2 linked regions of the Homo sapiens genome follow. The protein of the gene in region 2 binds, or shares a complex with, the protein of the main gene of each other region. Each region holds a gene or a part of one and is shown on either strand. Other genes may lie near its edges.

Region 1 (6,565 bases), about 100 Mb from region 2:
GTGAGTGGGTGGGAAGGAGGAATGGCTCTCAGTTCCCTAAGATGTTAGAACAGGGAGGGGGAATGTTGGGGCAGGAGGGGCAGCTTGCAATGACTATTTGTGTCCTTCTCACCATGCTCCACCCTGGCCCAGCCCCCAGTGGCCCCCCACAGGGAGTGGCGGTGGCCTTGGGGGGTGATGGCAACAGCAGTATCACTGTGTCCTGGGAACCTCCACTCCCCTCCCAGCAAAATGGGGTCATCACGGAATACCAGGTAGAGGGATTGAGGAGGGACTGGATGGGAGGGCCAGGCCGGGAGGGAGAGGGAGGACCTAGTGGCTAGAATTAGGGTGGAGGAAATCTATTACAGGTTTGGCTTTAGGGTTGGGGATGAGTTTAGGGGAGAAGAGAGAGGTTTCCAAGTGTTGTTTCCAGGTTGAATTACATCTGTATAAGGCTTCTCTACCATTTGGAGCCTTAAGTTTCCCGGTGAGGCTAAGAATCCCATTTCTGACTCTAAATCCGGGACTCGGCCTCCCTAGATCTGGTGCCTGGGCAATGAGAGCCGCTTTCACCTCAATCGATCTGCAGCAGGCTGGGCACGCTCCGCAATGCTCCGAGGACTGGTGCCCGGTCTCCTCTATCGAACCCTGGTCGCGGCGGCCACCAGCGCAGGCGTGGGCGTGCCCAGTGCCCCAGTGCTGGTGCAGCTGCGTGAGTCCACCCGAGGGCAGTGCTGAGGATCTTGACGGGGGCGGGGCAAGCCCCCCACTGGGGTAGCTGTGCCTGCCGGGTCGGGAATGACCCTTTCCCAGTTCCAGGGTTTCGGGCCCCTCCTCCCCTCACTTCTCTGACCCCCACAGCGTCCCCGCCGGACCTGGAGCCCGGGCTGGAGGTGGGCGCGGGGCTGGCGGTGCGGCTGGCGAGGGTGCTGCGGGAGCCCGCCTTCCTCGCGGGCAGCGGCGCAGCCTGCGGGGCGCTGCTTCTCGGGCTCTGCGCCGCCCTCTACTGGCGCCGGAAACAGCGCAAAGAGCTCAGCCACTACACGGGTGAGCTCCCGGCCTCGGAGCGGACGGATCCGGGAGGGAGCCAGGCGGCCCATGGGGAGGGGCAGGGGCTTAGCCGCTGGCGAGTGAGGACCGGGTCGGGAGAAAGGGGTCGCACCTGGAGTTCAGCCTCTTGGGTAGGGGCGGGATACGTGGGGCGACTCGAGGAGCTGCCAGGACTAGGGAGGGCTGCGGGCCAAGACGGGGCGGGATCTGGATGACGTTTGCCTCTAAGACGCCACGAGGAGGCCAGGCTTTGCAACCATCTCCATAAAGAAGGGGCAAGTTCGAGGACGGAAAGCCCACTCAAAGGGCGGGGGGCGGGGCCTGGCAAGAGGGGGTGTGGCCAGGATCCCAGGCAGTAAATTGTGCGGCGGGGTCTGGATGGAAAGGCGGGGCCCGCTGAAAGAAGGCGATCCGAGTTCTGCTACTTCCTAGTAAGGGACGTCTCTGGAGAGATTCTGAGGTGTTTGAGGTCAGTGGTTTTCAATCTTGGTTGGCTACACATAGGAATCACTTGAGGGGCTTGAGAAAAATACCGACACCTGAGTCCCACCCCCGAGAAATTCTGATGAAATGGGTCCAGGGTGCAGCCTGAGTGGTGGAACTGGGACCGGGGCCTAGGCGTGGACAAGTATAGGGGTATTTCTGACCCTTCTCCTCATTTCACCTCTTCTTTCTCCCACGGGTTCCTTTCTGGAAGCCTCTTTTGCCTACACACCGGCAGGTAAGCCATCTCTGCCCCAGTGGGGTTCAGACCCCCCGGGACGGGCCCTTCTCTCACTCATTCGCCCCCTCATTTTCCCCAGTGTCCTTCCCGCACTCAGAGGGCCTCTCTGGAGCCAGTTCCAGGTAATTCTCTTAGCCCATTTCCTCAGGATGACCTCCACCGACAGGCCACTCTTCTTCCGCCCCGCTGACGCCCCAGGTGGAGGGAGCATGGCCACCTCCCACCCCAACACCACCGCCACTGTCCTGAAACTCCCGAATATCGCCACCTCCCTTTCCTTTGCTGGCCTCTTCAGGCTCTCCGTCCCCAACGCTCACCTGCTCTCCCTCAGGCCACCCATGGGCCTTGGCCCCGCCCCCTACTCATGGCTGGCAGATTCGTGGCCCCACCCATCTCGAAGCCCCTCGGCCCAGGAACCCAGGGGAAGCTGCTGCCCTAGCAATCCTGACCCGGACGACAGATATTACAACGGTGAGGAGTTCTCATTCCCTCACCTGGCTTCAGCGCACTTCTCCCGACCTACTGGGGCAAACCGAAGGGCGCCCGGGAGCCCGGTCTCTCTGAGGTTGGTCAGTCCCTGGGGAGGATGTGAGCTGGGGAAGCCTCTCAGACCTACCTCCACCCTGGTTTAGGATGTAAGGCTTGTGTGGGGGAAGAAGTTGATCCCGTGGGATTTCCCTTTGTCTTCCATTCTGTTGTCCTCTATGTTTCTGTCTCTGCTTCCGGGCCTCCCTCTTTCTTCTCTGCAGAAGCGGGAATCTCCCTGTATCTAGCTCAGACGGCCAGGGGCACGGCCGCCCCTGGCGAGGGTCCTGTCTATAGCACCATTGACCCAGCGGGGGAGGAGCTGCAGACCTTCCATGGGGGCTTCCCCCAACATCCCTCAGGAGATCTGGGTCCCTGGAGCCAGTACGCTCCTCCAGAGTGGAGCCAGGGGGACAGTGGTATGACTCCAACTCCTGAAACCCCGTTTAGCCCTGACCAGGGTATCCCCAAAGAGGATCCTCCTCCCTGACCCTCTGGCACCTAGCCCGGCACTTCCTTCTGACCTGTCTCATCTCTGGCTCTTTCCTGCCTGTTCTCCGGGTGTCCCCATCCTATTCTCCTCAGGAGCCAAGGGAGGCAAAGTGAAGCTTCTGGGGAAACCTGTGCAGATGCCCTCTCTGAACTGGCCAGAAGCCCTGCCCCCACCTCCTCCTTCTTGTGAACTGAGCTGCCTAGAAGGGCCGGAGGAGGAGCTGGAGGGCAGGTAGAGATGCTCCCTGCTTCCAGGCCCACACACCTGCGGCCAGACCATGGGCTGCTGGGGAGGAAGGGGAGGGGGCAGCAGGAAGGCCAACGGGAAGGTATGGAAGCAGCTGAGCCCTTTCCTTCTCTCCTGCCTCTTTGATCCCAGCTCAGAGCCAGAGGAGTGGTGCCCGCCAATGCCTGAGAGAAGTCACCTGACGGAGCCCAGCTCCAGTGGAGGGTGCCTGGTCACCCCATCCCGAAGGGAAACCCCCTCTCCCACACCTTCCTATGGACAGCAGTCCACAGCCACTCTTACACCCTCACCTCCTGACCCTCCCCAGCCCCCAACTGACATGCCCCATCTCCATCAGATGCCCAGGTAGGGAGGTATATAGTACCTCACTCATTGCAAGCCCTCTATACGTATCTACTCAGTAGATGACTGGGTGGGTGGATGGATGGATGGGTGGATGGATCTGGGGTACAGAGGTCTCAGGGCTGTGTCAGGGTGGAAGTGTAATTTGGGCAGGAATATGGAGGCTGACAAGATCTCTCATGCCCATTAGACTGGCTCTTGCTGGAGTGGTCAGCACTCTACCTGAGACATTTCAGATATGGCTCTCCTTATGCTTCTCTAGCTTGGGAGGACTTACGGGCGGACGGGTTGTGTCTCGTTTATCTGTTAGGTTGATTGTCTAGCACAGTGCCAGGCACATAGTAGGCATTCAGTTTTTGTGGAGGGAACAGAGGCTGCGGCCTCCTGTCATTGCAGGAGGGTGCCCCTTGGGCCGAGTTCCCCTCTCAGTGTATCCCAGCCCATGCTGGGCATCCGTGAAGCGAGGCCTGCTGGCTTGGGTGCTGGCCCTGCAGCCTCACCCCACCTCAGCCCCAGTCCTGCCCCTAGCACAGCCAGCAGTGCCCCAGGTAAGTCTCTACAACCTCCTTTTGCCCCCCGGCTCCCTCCAGTGCTTGCTTCCCCTTCACCCTTAGGCCTTTTTCCTGATTTTTGCCCTTACCCATTCCTCTTCCCGTCTCCTAACACTGCAGGCAGAACCTGGCAGGGGAATGGGGAGATGACTCCCCCACTTCAAGGACCCCGTGCTCGATTCCGGAAGAAACCCAAGGCTCTTCCCTACAGGAGGGAGAACAGTCCTGGGGGTGAGGGGGGATGCACCTGGGAGATGGTGACAGTAGTGGCGGGGGGATAGGCAGGAAACCAAGGGTGCACTCTGGGGGCTGGAGGAGGGAACAGGTGAACCCCAATCTTGGGCTGTTCATTGGCAGCCTCCTGGTGCCAGGGAATGCAGGTGAGAGAAAGATTAGTGACAGGAGTGGCAGGAGGCTCCGCTGAAAACAGCTCCCTCCCCAGACTTGCCCCCACCACCCTTGCCACCGCCAGAGGAAGAGGCGAGCTGGGCCCTAGAGCTGAGGGCAGCAGGCAGCATGTCCTCCCTGGAGCGGGAGCGCAGTGGGGAGAGGAAAGCGGTCCAGGCCGTGCCCCTGGCAGCCCAGCGGGTGCTCCACCCAGATGGTAAGCAGGGCCAGGGCAGGCAGGAGGGCTGCTGCCACAGGAGACTGTGGGCTTTGGGACTGGGGGCTGATAGTAGACCAGCTCAGCCCTCCCTTTAGTTAGGTTCATGCATTTGATCCACATCAAACTCCCCTGTCTCTCTAACTCTCTGAGCACAATCCCCTGAAGTCCCAAGTTGTGTTCATTCCCAGGATGGAAGCCCAGATAAGAGGACTGGGCTCTAGGTGCTCTGTCCCCGCTCCCCACAAGGCTCCCTCTGATTGGGAGCTCCCCCGCAGCGTTCTGAGCACCCATGATGTCAAGGCCATGTGCCGGTCACTCTGCTGCTCCTCAGCCCCAGGCTGGCTGAGCCCTGTGCCTGCCCTTCATCTTCTTCCAGAGCTGAGCCTGTGGTCAGGGTGGCAGGGTGGGTGACAGGGAAGTTCTGCTTCCTGCCTGCACCTGGCTACCCTTCCCTCTTGTGCTGCAGAAGAGGCCTGGCTCCCATACAGCAGACCAAGCTTCCTGTCCCGGGGCCAGGGCACCAGCACATGTTCCACGGCCGGCAGCAACTCTTCCAGGGGCTCCAGCAGCTCTAGGGGCTCCCGGGGCCCTGGCCGGAGCCGGAGTCGGAGTCAGAGCCGGAGCCAGAGCCAAAGGCCAGGACAGAAACGCCGAGAGGTAGGGGCCATAGATTGCAGAAAAATGAGGGCAGAGGACTAGGGAAGGGTGGACCAAGGCGTAATGGAAAACAGGAAGGTGGGCAAGGGCTTGTGGAGGAGTGTCAAAAGGAGGGGATCGAGAGGGTGAGGGGGAGGGAGGAATCCTGTAGAAGTGACAAGGGGACTGAGCGTGGTGGCTCATGCCTGTAATCCCAGCACTTTGGGAGACCGAGATGGGCGGATCCCTTGAGCTCAGGAGTTTGAGACTAGCCTGGGCAATATGGTAAAATCCCATCTCTACAAAAAATACAAAATTAGCTGGGCGTGGTGGTATGCTCCTGTAGTCCCAGCTACTCAGGGGGCTTGAGGTGGGAGGATAGCTTGAGCCTGGGAGGTCAAGGCTGCAGTGAGCCATGATCACACCACTGCTCTCCAGTCTGGGCGACAGAGTGAGACTCTGTCTCAAACAAACAAACAGACAAACAAAACAAAAGAAATGACAAGGGGTGAGGACAAGATGACACATAATAGAGGAGCCTGGGCTCACCGTAGGAGAACTGGGTTAGGAGAGAGAAAGCCTGAGCCCTTCCTGGACTTGTTTGCCCTGGGCCAGGGTTTTACAAAACAGCATCTCTCTCTCTCTCCCTAGGAACCAAGATGACCCTTGTTGGGGCATTGAGAATATCATGAGTGCCACGGGGAAGGGGAGTAGGGATGTCTTTTCCCCCCCAGCAGTGATGAGTGGGGCTAGCTGAAGCCCATTGGTTTCCACGATTTCAATTGGCTGAGAAGGCAGAGAGCTAGCTCCTCCCTTTCTTTCTTTTTCCACCTGAGACTTGTTTATAAAAAACAAAACAATAAAAAGAGTCTGATCAGAGCCCAGGGCCCTGTCTGTCTGGTTCTGTGCAGCAGGTTGGGAAGAAGGGGACTGCAGGGTCCTGTATATCAACGCACACTGGTAGCTTCTGCTTCCCCTTCCACTCCGTCAAAAGCACTAAGTTAGGCCAGGCACAATGGCTCACACTCATAATCCCAGTGCTTTAGGAGGCTGAGGCAGGAGGATCATTTGAGCCCAGGAGTTTGAGACCAGCCTGGCCAACCTAGAAAGAACTTGTGTCTACACACACACACACACACACACACACACACACACACACACACACACACAAATAAATAAATAAATAAATAAATAAATTAGCCAGGTATGGTTGTGTGCACCTGTCATCCTATCTACTTGAGAAGCTGAGGCAGTAGTATTGCCTGAACCCAGGTGTTGGAGGTTATAGTGAGCTATGATTGTGCCACTGGACTTCATCCTGGGTGACAGAGTGAGACCCTATCTCAAAAACAAACAAACAAACAAAAAACTGAAAAAACACTAGGTGGGGACTGTACCGTCCTGCTTCT
Region 2 (7,025 bases):
CACAGCTTAGACATTTATATCTTTAACATTTAGGGCAAGTTACTTTATCCCATGGAAATTCAGTTTCATTGTCTTTCAAAGTAGTGCTGTAAGAAGTAAACATGATGCAGCTTTTTTGAATTATAGGGTGGCTGAAATATAGCAGGTGCTCCAATAAGGGAAAACAAACCTAGATTGGAGTGTGGGAAACTAGGTTTATGTGAAAGGGGAAAAAATAGGTGTTGGGGGTAATGATCTAGCACTTGATAATGTGGCCCTCCTAACTAGGTGGCCCCAGGTCTGTGGATGTGTGGCAGATGAAGGCAAGTGGATGAACTGGATGATTTCTTAAGGCTCATTTCAGCTCTGTTTCAGCAGACTGGGAATTTATCAGGAGACTTGGCTAAGAGGCTACTAAGCAAGTAATTTATCTTGGTTCCCATGCACATAAAGCTCAAGATTAAATAGTCCCATCCCAACAGACATAGACATACCAGGCAAGAGCTACAGTAGAGCAATAACAAAGGAAAATAAATAGGCAAGATCAATAAAAGAAGAAATAAAGCACAAAGAGATCAAACAGTTTAATAGACCCATTTTGCAAAGCATAAAGCAAAACCAAATGATGACAGAATTTTATTTTCATAAGCATTAAGCTCACTTTCCAACAACTTAATATAAGGAATGGCCCAGCACTGAGAATAACAAAGAAGACATCAATTTCTAAGAGGCCTCATACTATCATTATCATTTGTTCAAAATGAAAATCCACCTGTCTCAGCACTGGATGCAAGTCTGTTGGCCTTGCTTTTCTAGATGATGTCATAAAGTGAGCAAGTTCATGCAGGTGGTTATTTTAGGCAAAGAGTAGTTTTAATCAGCAAGTTTGTATAAGCGTGGGATGAGGGCTCATTAAAACTCTCACCCAACCAACCTTAAAAGCACTGTAGGCTTTCAGTGGGAGGACTATCATTGGCTTTTCTACCCTGCTTCGCCTTCCCTGCAGTTCCTTCTCAATCTCATACCTCACTTTCCACTAAGAACACAATCAATTCAAAGCAGGCTTCCCTACCCCTTAGCATCATCATTAGCTGTAATGTAGATAAGAACAGGAGAAGCCTGTTCAGGAACTACAGTCAACAGCAAGAGGGAGAGAGCTGGGGAGGTAGAAAAGTGAGGGAAGAAGAGAAAGAACAGTTTCAATTTCTGCTGCACCACATCAGCCTCACCTTGCAGGAGCAGACAGAACACCTGTCTTCTTTCAAGGTCCACACCTGGCCATTGTGCTTCAGCCCCCCTTCATGAGGACAGTCACCAGAGCAGGAGGGCCCAGAGGGGCAGAGACAGTCAAAGCCCCCTGCCAGGTTGATGCAGGCAGAATCGTTCCAACAGGTGTGAGTTCTTAAGGCACATTCATCAATGTCTGCAATATAGGAAGCACAGAAGCTTAGAATCTAGCCAAGGGAACTTAGAGAACAAACAACCATCATTTGCAGTAGCATTAACTAACATCATCGACCATTTACCTTGTGCTAGGTACTGCCAAGCTGTTCACATGTATTATCTCATTTACACTGCAAGTCAGTTCTGCTCTGTGTGGGAGATCTGTCCTTATTCCTATTCTGCAAATAATGAAGCTGAGGTTCATAACTTAAATAACATGACCACTGTCATAGAGCTAGTAAGTGGCTGATCTGAGACCCAAATCTACAGCTAGCTCCCAGACTCTAATTACTAAAATATCCAGTAGCAGTTAGCAAGTTCTTTTAGGATATTCTTAAGAACGATTTCATCCAGAGGCCATAAACACTGTTAATTCATTAACAGTATGCACACACCACCATGGAGATCTGAGTCTTTTAGAAAAGATGTGAATGTATTAGCCACTGAGTAGGAACAAGTGGGCAATTTGGGCAACCTTGAGACAATCAGATTGCTCCTAGATCCTACCACCAAAGTTGAAGGAAGTGGGAACAATTCTTGATAGGTGTCTTTTATAGTCAAAGTCTTACTATCCTTATGGCCAGCAGAATATTTGCCCGTGCATAAAAAATAATTGCTATATGGATGGATGCTGATGAAAGACATAAATATATTGTCCTGCTCTTTATTGACAGCCAACAATGGAATAAAAACATAAATCCAGTCGGCCGATTCTGACATTTAAAGCTTGAGCGACCTTAACAACATCTCAAACACAAACCTGTCCAACCCTGGCTTAAGTCCTTCCCCAAAAGGCAATCCATTACCTTGCAAAATACCTGACTCCACCTTTGGATAACTCTTTTGGAAATGTCTCCCTTAAATTGAGATGAAATATACTACCGAGTAACTTCTACTCATTTGTAGAAGTACTGATACTTAGTGTCTGAGGCCATTGAATAAGTGTCTACTAGTCTACTTGGTTTTGGTTTACCTGCTATGCACAAGTTTCTTTGCACATGGTGCAATACAAAGCAGATGACATTAAGAAATTCTAATAATATTTCTAGAAGTTACTTTTTTCCAAGATCTAATTTTTGGCTTTGTCTTACCAATTTTAGCTTTAGTCAAGACATTTCATTAGTGAACAATGATTTCTCCTTTGAAAATTATAGAAAAGATCCCAAATTATGATGCCTGTATGGTAAGTCAACTAAAATCAAGCCTCACTATATCTCCTCACTGTTACTAGTCATGCCCATCCCATTCTCAGTGTATTTCTATTTGAACATATGGTGCTCCTTTCATATAGCCTCTCTTATCTCTTCAATCTTCTTTCAATTCTCTTATTCTTCTCAACTAAAAGGAGTTTTAAATGTGGGAGTCTGGTGACCAATGTTTGAAACCAAGCTCTTACTTTTTAGTTGAGTGCTTACCATGTATTAGTCATTTTACACGTAACAGTTATATATTCTTTGACATGTTACTTTGTTTTTCTCTCATTTATCTTCTATATACACTATACCCACTCAATGTATGGTCTTCCAAAAATTTTAAACCCAGCATAGCATATAAATGCCATCTAATACTGCAATTGTTATCTCTTGTCCCCTCCCTTTTCATTCAAAAGCAGTGAATACAAAATTTCAGTTAAATAGAAGGAATAAATTCAAGAAGCTCTATTGTCAAACATGATGACTGTAGTTAATAACAAGGTATTGTATGCTTGAAAATTGAGAATATTTTTGTCACAAAAAAGTAAGTGTATAAGGTAATATATATATATATATTATGTAGCTTGATTATTTAGCCATTCCAGAATGTATTCCTATTTCAAAACATCATGTTGTACACCATAAATATATATAAAATGTATTTGTCAACTGATTTTTTTTTAAAAAGCAACGGGAGATCCACAAAGAGGCCATATTGTTTCCTATGAAACAACTGTGTCTTAGAACATGCTTTCTTTTATTATGAGAGTACTCTCTCTCTTTCCCTACTTTTTCTTGTCCTATAGGGAATGAGGTGAGGTATCAATCAATTAATTGATAAGCACTTTCCTTCCTGTACTACTTTCACTCCTACGCAGTCTTAAAAATTCAGGTTAAGCCTCACCATCTCTTATATGGCAAGACAGTCACTACAGATTTTTTGCTTTCTCTGTACCTTATACACAATTCTATCCTGCATTCCTCTCTCAGGAGTTACGTGTTTAACTTGTCTACCTCCAGAGAGAGTGAGCTCATTGAGGGCAGACACTAAATTTTATTTTTCTTTCTCTTCCCAGTGCTGAGTATAACAGAATACTATATGGATATTCGATGTATTTATTCCATTTAACTTTCTTAGGAAATCCACAGACTGAGACTATTATAATGCCTACTTTGCCAAAACTCGGTCTTTAGAGTGTTCAACAAGCATAAGGCATAATCACAACCCTGCCCTTCAGGGAACACATTTTGTTGTTGAGTTCTCATCTGTGAAGGCCCTTGGGTCTAATTTAAAGTAGAAAAAATACAGCAAATTAGCAACCACATTGAAGAAGGGGCAATGCCCTGCCCCTTCCCCAGGAAAAAACTTTTATTTTCTGTCAAATGCTTGAGAACAAGGGCAGAGGAAGCATTAACAAATGGCTCCAGAAATTGTCTGGAAGTATAACTTCAACCCATCCACCACCAGTGGCTACAAAAGGGTTGGTAATTTATGGCTTTCTCTAAAAAATATCTACATTGACAACTAATGCCCAGCTATATTATGCTTTTAAAATATTTGGTTATTTTGCATTTACAAAGTTGCAAATATATTGGTAGTGATTTTCTCTCATAAATTAAGAAGGCTGAGCATAAAGATAAACATACCTATTGTGCACAATAAAAGCAGGGCGCAAAACCAGGATTTGCTTTCACTTCTCCAGAATGAAAAGATTTCACAGTTGAATATAGGACCATATTGCCTACAGAGTTCCATGTAATTGCTTTACTTATGACACAGAAATCTAATTCTGTTTCCATGCAATTTAGCAGATTTATGGAAAGCCAGATGTTAGCAATTATGGAAACCAACATTATTCATATTCTTAGTAATACAGACCTGTTTGCTCTGCACAAAGCCAACTTAATCTATTATACATATCCCAAGGCAGCCAACGGGAAGAGGCACCCTATTTACATATTGCAACTGTTGTTCTCTGCTGAGCAAACACAAAGTTATTCACCCGTGAGACTTACCCAAATCATCAGACAGGCCTCCCAATGACAAACAGGCAATGAAAGAAAAATTACACGAAGTATTTGAGTATTTCGTACTCAAATCTATTATCATTAGAATGTACTTGTTTTTCTTATTGTAAATAATGGCTGGCTGTGATCTCTCTGTGTTTCTTCTTATAAATTCATTATTTAAATGCTTCATGCTCGAATGAAATATTTTTTCAATAAAATTCCATGGCTAAGCTTGCATTAGAACTAATTTTCTTGCATTAACATTTTCACAATTTCTGAAAGCTGTTATTATTGTACTCAGTTTTGCTCTTTAAAACAATCTAGTTGTGCCAAGTCAATCTGCTTTCATCTTTGATGTGAGGTTTTTAGGTTACTTGGGCATGTAAGAAAATAGAATTCAGAGATGTTTATAACAGCAGCAATCAAACCAATCCTAAACTAGCTGCAAACAATTTTCCTACCCTTCAAGCCAAATGGCTCTGCAGAAATTTTTAATAGCATAACCACTGTATTAGTACTTGCCTCAGGAGCTAATACTTCTACAGGTTGATTTCAGAAATCAAAGTAAACATTTTACCAACAGTTTGGTAACAGGTCAAAGCAGTGAACTTTTTCATTACCCCATATTCCTCTTTCTTGAATAACTTTGACAGCACATCTAGTCTTATTTTCAAACTCAAAACAGGTGATGTGTCAGAAACAAAAGTTTACCCAGCGTTTGAATATACAGCTGTGTGTGTGTGTTCCTACCTGGAAATCATTATGAGTGGCTCAGAAATGAGAACAGAGCTTGGGGGTTCATTAATGACAGACAGTCTAGAGAACAGATCCCTCTCCAATATCTAAAGCAGTATTGCTTTTTTTACAGTGGCAGAGAGAAAATTATGGGGGAAAATATACACACTACACGTTAGCAAAATAAGTAAAATAAGTAGCGAATCTGAAGTCTGATGTAACTTGCAAAATAAAAGGCTAATGAAATTTTAACCTGCACAATAAATTTCAAATCCAGGCTAAGCGGTGGCAGCCATGCTCTATCATGTGCTGGCCATACCACACTTGGATATTGTGTTCCCTTTAGCACACAGACTATGAAGAATGAGGTTGACACAGTTAGAACACATCAGAAGAGATCCATTAGCGTGATGAGGAGCTCAAACTCATCTCACTTTGGCAAAACACAGGATGTTCAGCCTGAAAAGACAAAGACTAAAGGAAGAGATAAGTTAGAGATAGCTTCATCTATTTGAGATGCTGCTATGTATCTTTTAGGAAGAATTTTCAATACCCCTTTAGCATTAACTCTTCACTCACTGTTCCAGCCCCAAACCTTTCCTGAGTCAGGAAGAAACCCTTTCCTATGGTGTTCCCTTGTTTGGTGTATAATTTTCTTACTCTGCAATGACTCTTCCCCTTTCTTTTAATTAAGGAGACTCTCTTTTGACAAAGGAAAAATATAACACTGTTTTGGCTCACTATTTCCTTGATCCAGATTTTATTTCCTAGTATCTACAATTAGCAACTATCCGCATTTACTCATTTTCATTCTCTCCTGAATGTGTGCAAGCTTCCGTGGGACCCTCTTCTCGAAGGCTAAATCTTGAAGTCTCTCATAACCACTAGTTTGCAAAATCATCACCCTTGCTTAAAAAGTATTATAACAAATATTGTTATTGATTATTTCAGTCTAAGAGCTCTCTCTGTGACCCTTCTGGAATATAATATTGCCCTCTTCATCCTATTATCTCTTCATTATCTAGTCACTAGTACTCATCAATGAATAAATGAATTCCCTGCATATTTATTTAACATCTACTCTATGCCATTAACATCTACTCTATGCCAGATACACTGCTAAGTGCTGGAGATACAATGGGCAAAGAAGCCAGATATGGCCCTGTAAGTATTGACTTTATAGTTGTCTCTCATTTTAAAAAAATATTTGTATATCCTAAGTTTCCACGTCTGGTCCTTGTTTCTCTTTCTCCTTAGTGGAAGAAGTATAGCATACCAATTGAAAGCTTAACCTTTGTAATCCAGAAACTGCGGATACCAGTTTGCCTGGCACTGAGGGAGTTCCTGAGATAGCTGACTTTCAGTGCTAAAACTGAGAAAGTTCCAGCCCCATAGGGACAAGTGAGTCAACTCTGTCCCAGTCCATCCCTGCAATTTATTAGTTGTACGACTCTAAAAATTTACCTAACATCTCTGAGTCTTGGTCCCATTATGTAGAAAAATGTAGATAAAAATATACTCCATAGAATCATTTGGGTAAATACATAACGATATGCTTGTCATGTAATAATTGCTCAAAAATGATTAGTCACTATTATTGTTGGTCTTGTTCCTATTGTTTCTATAATTTTTCTCTCATACATTTAATCTCATTTAATGAATTTC

The links. Proteins that work in one complex are often made in the same cells at the same time.
Region 1: the proteins of NELL1 (region 2) and ROBO3 are in contact, whole or in part, in a crystal structure (PDB 6POL), measured with the Homo sapiens proteins. Residues at the interface, in NP_006148.2 of Homo sapiens: Ala440, Lys441, Met442, His443, Tyr444, His446, Tyr458, Arg468, Val469, Asp470, Asp471, Phe472, Ser473, Asp478, Ile492, Cys493, Thr494, Asn495, Thr503, Cys504, Lys505, Pro506; in NP_071765.2 of Homo sapiens: Ser553, Pro555, Val590, Glu592, Phe594, Pro596, Asn600, Thr601, Trp602, Thr604, Ile624, Leu626, Arg630, Gly633, Ala634, Trp635, Gly636, Leu637, Ser638, Glu639, Pro646, Val647, Arg648.

Annotation. Positions count from the first base shown.
Region 1 is NC_000011.10:124,875,432-124,881,996, forward strand, and holds the end of ROBO3 (roundabout homolog 3 isoform a precursor), read left to right. Parts: intron 1-132; coding exon 133-254; intron 255-522; coding exon 523-694; intron 695-750; exon of another isoform or gene 751-843; coding exon 844-1,029; intron 1,030-1,382; exon of another isoform or gene 1,383-1,501; intron 1,502-1,729; coding exon 1,730-1,753; intron 1,754-1,835; coding exon 1,836-1,878; intron 1,879-2,087; coding exon 2,088-2,227; exon of another isoform or gene 2,228-2,321; intron 2,322-2,505; coding exon 2,506-2,700; intron 2,701-2,866; coding exon 2,867-3,005; intron 3,006-3,152; coding exon 3,153-3,365; intron 3,366-3,758; coding exon 3,759-3,910; intron 3,911-4,033; coding exon 4,034-4,144; intron 4,145-4,355; coding exon 4,356-4,517; intron 4,518-4,986; coding exon 4,987-5,177; intron 5,178-5,807; coding exon 5,808-5,819; 3' UTR 5,820-6,040; downstream 6,041-6,565. UniProt on the Homo sapiens protein: Receptor involved in axon guidance during development. Acts as a multifunctional regulator of pathfinding that simultaneously mediates NELL2 repulsion, inhibits SLIT repulsion, and facilitates Netrin-1/NTN1 attraction.
Region 2 is NC_000011.10:21,554,566-21,561,590, reverse strand, and holds part of NELL1 (protein kinase C-binding protein NELL1 isoform 1 precursor), read right to left. Parts: intron 1,403-7,025; coding exon 1,209-1,402; intron 1-1,208. UniProt on the Homo sapiens protein: Plays a role in the control of cell growth and differentiation. Promotes osteoblast cell differentiation and terminal mineralization.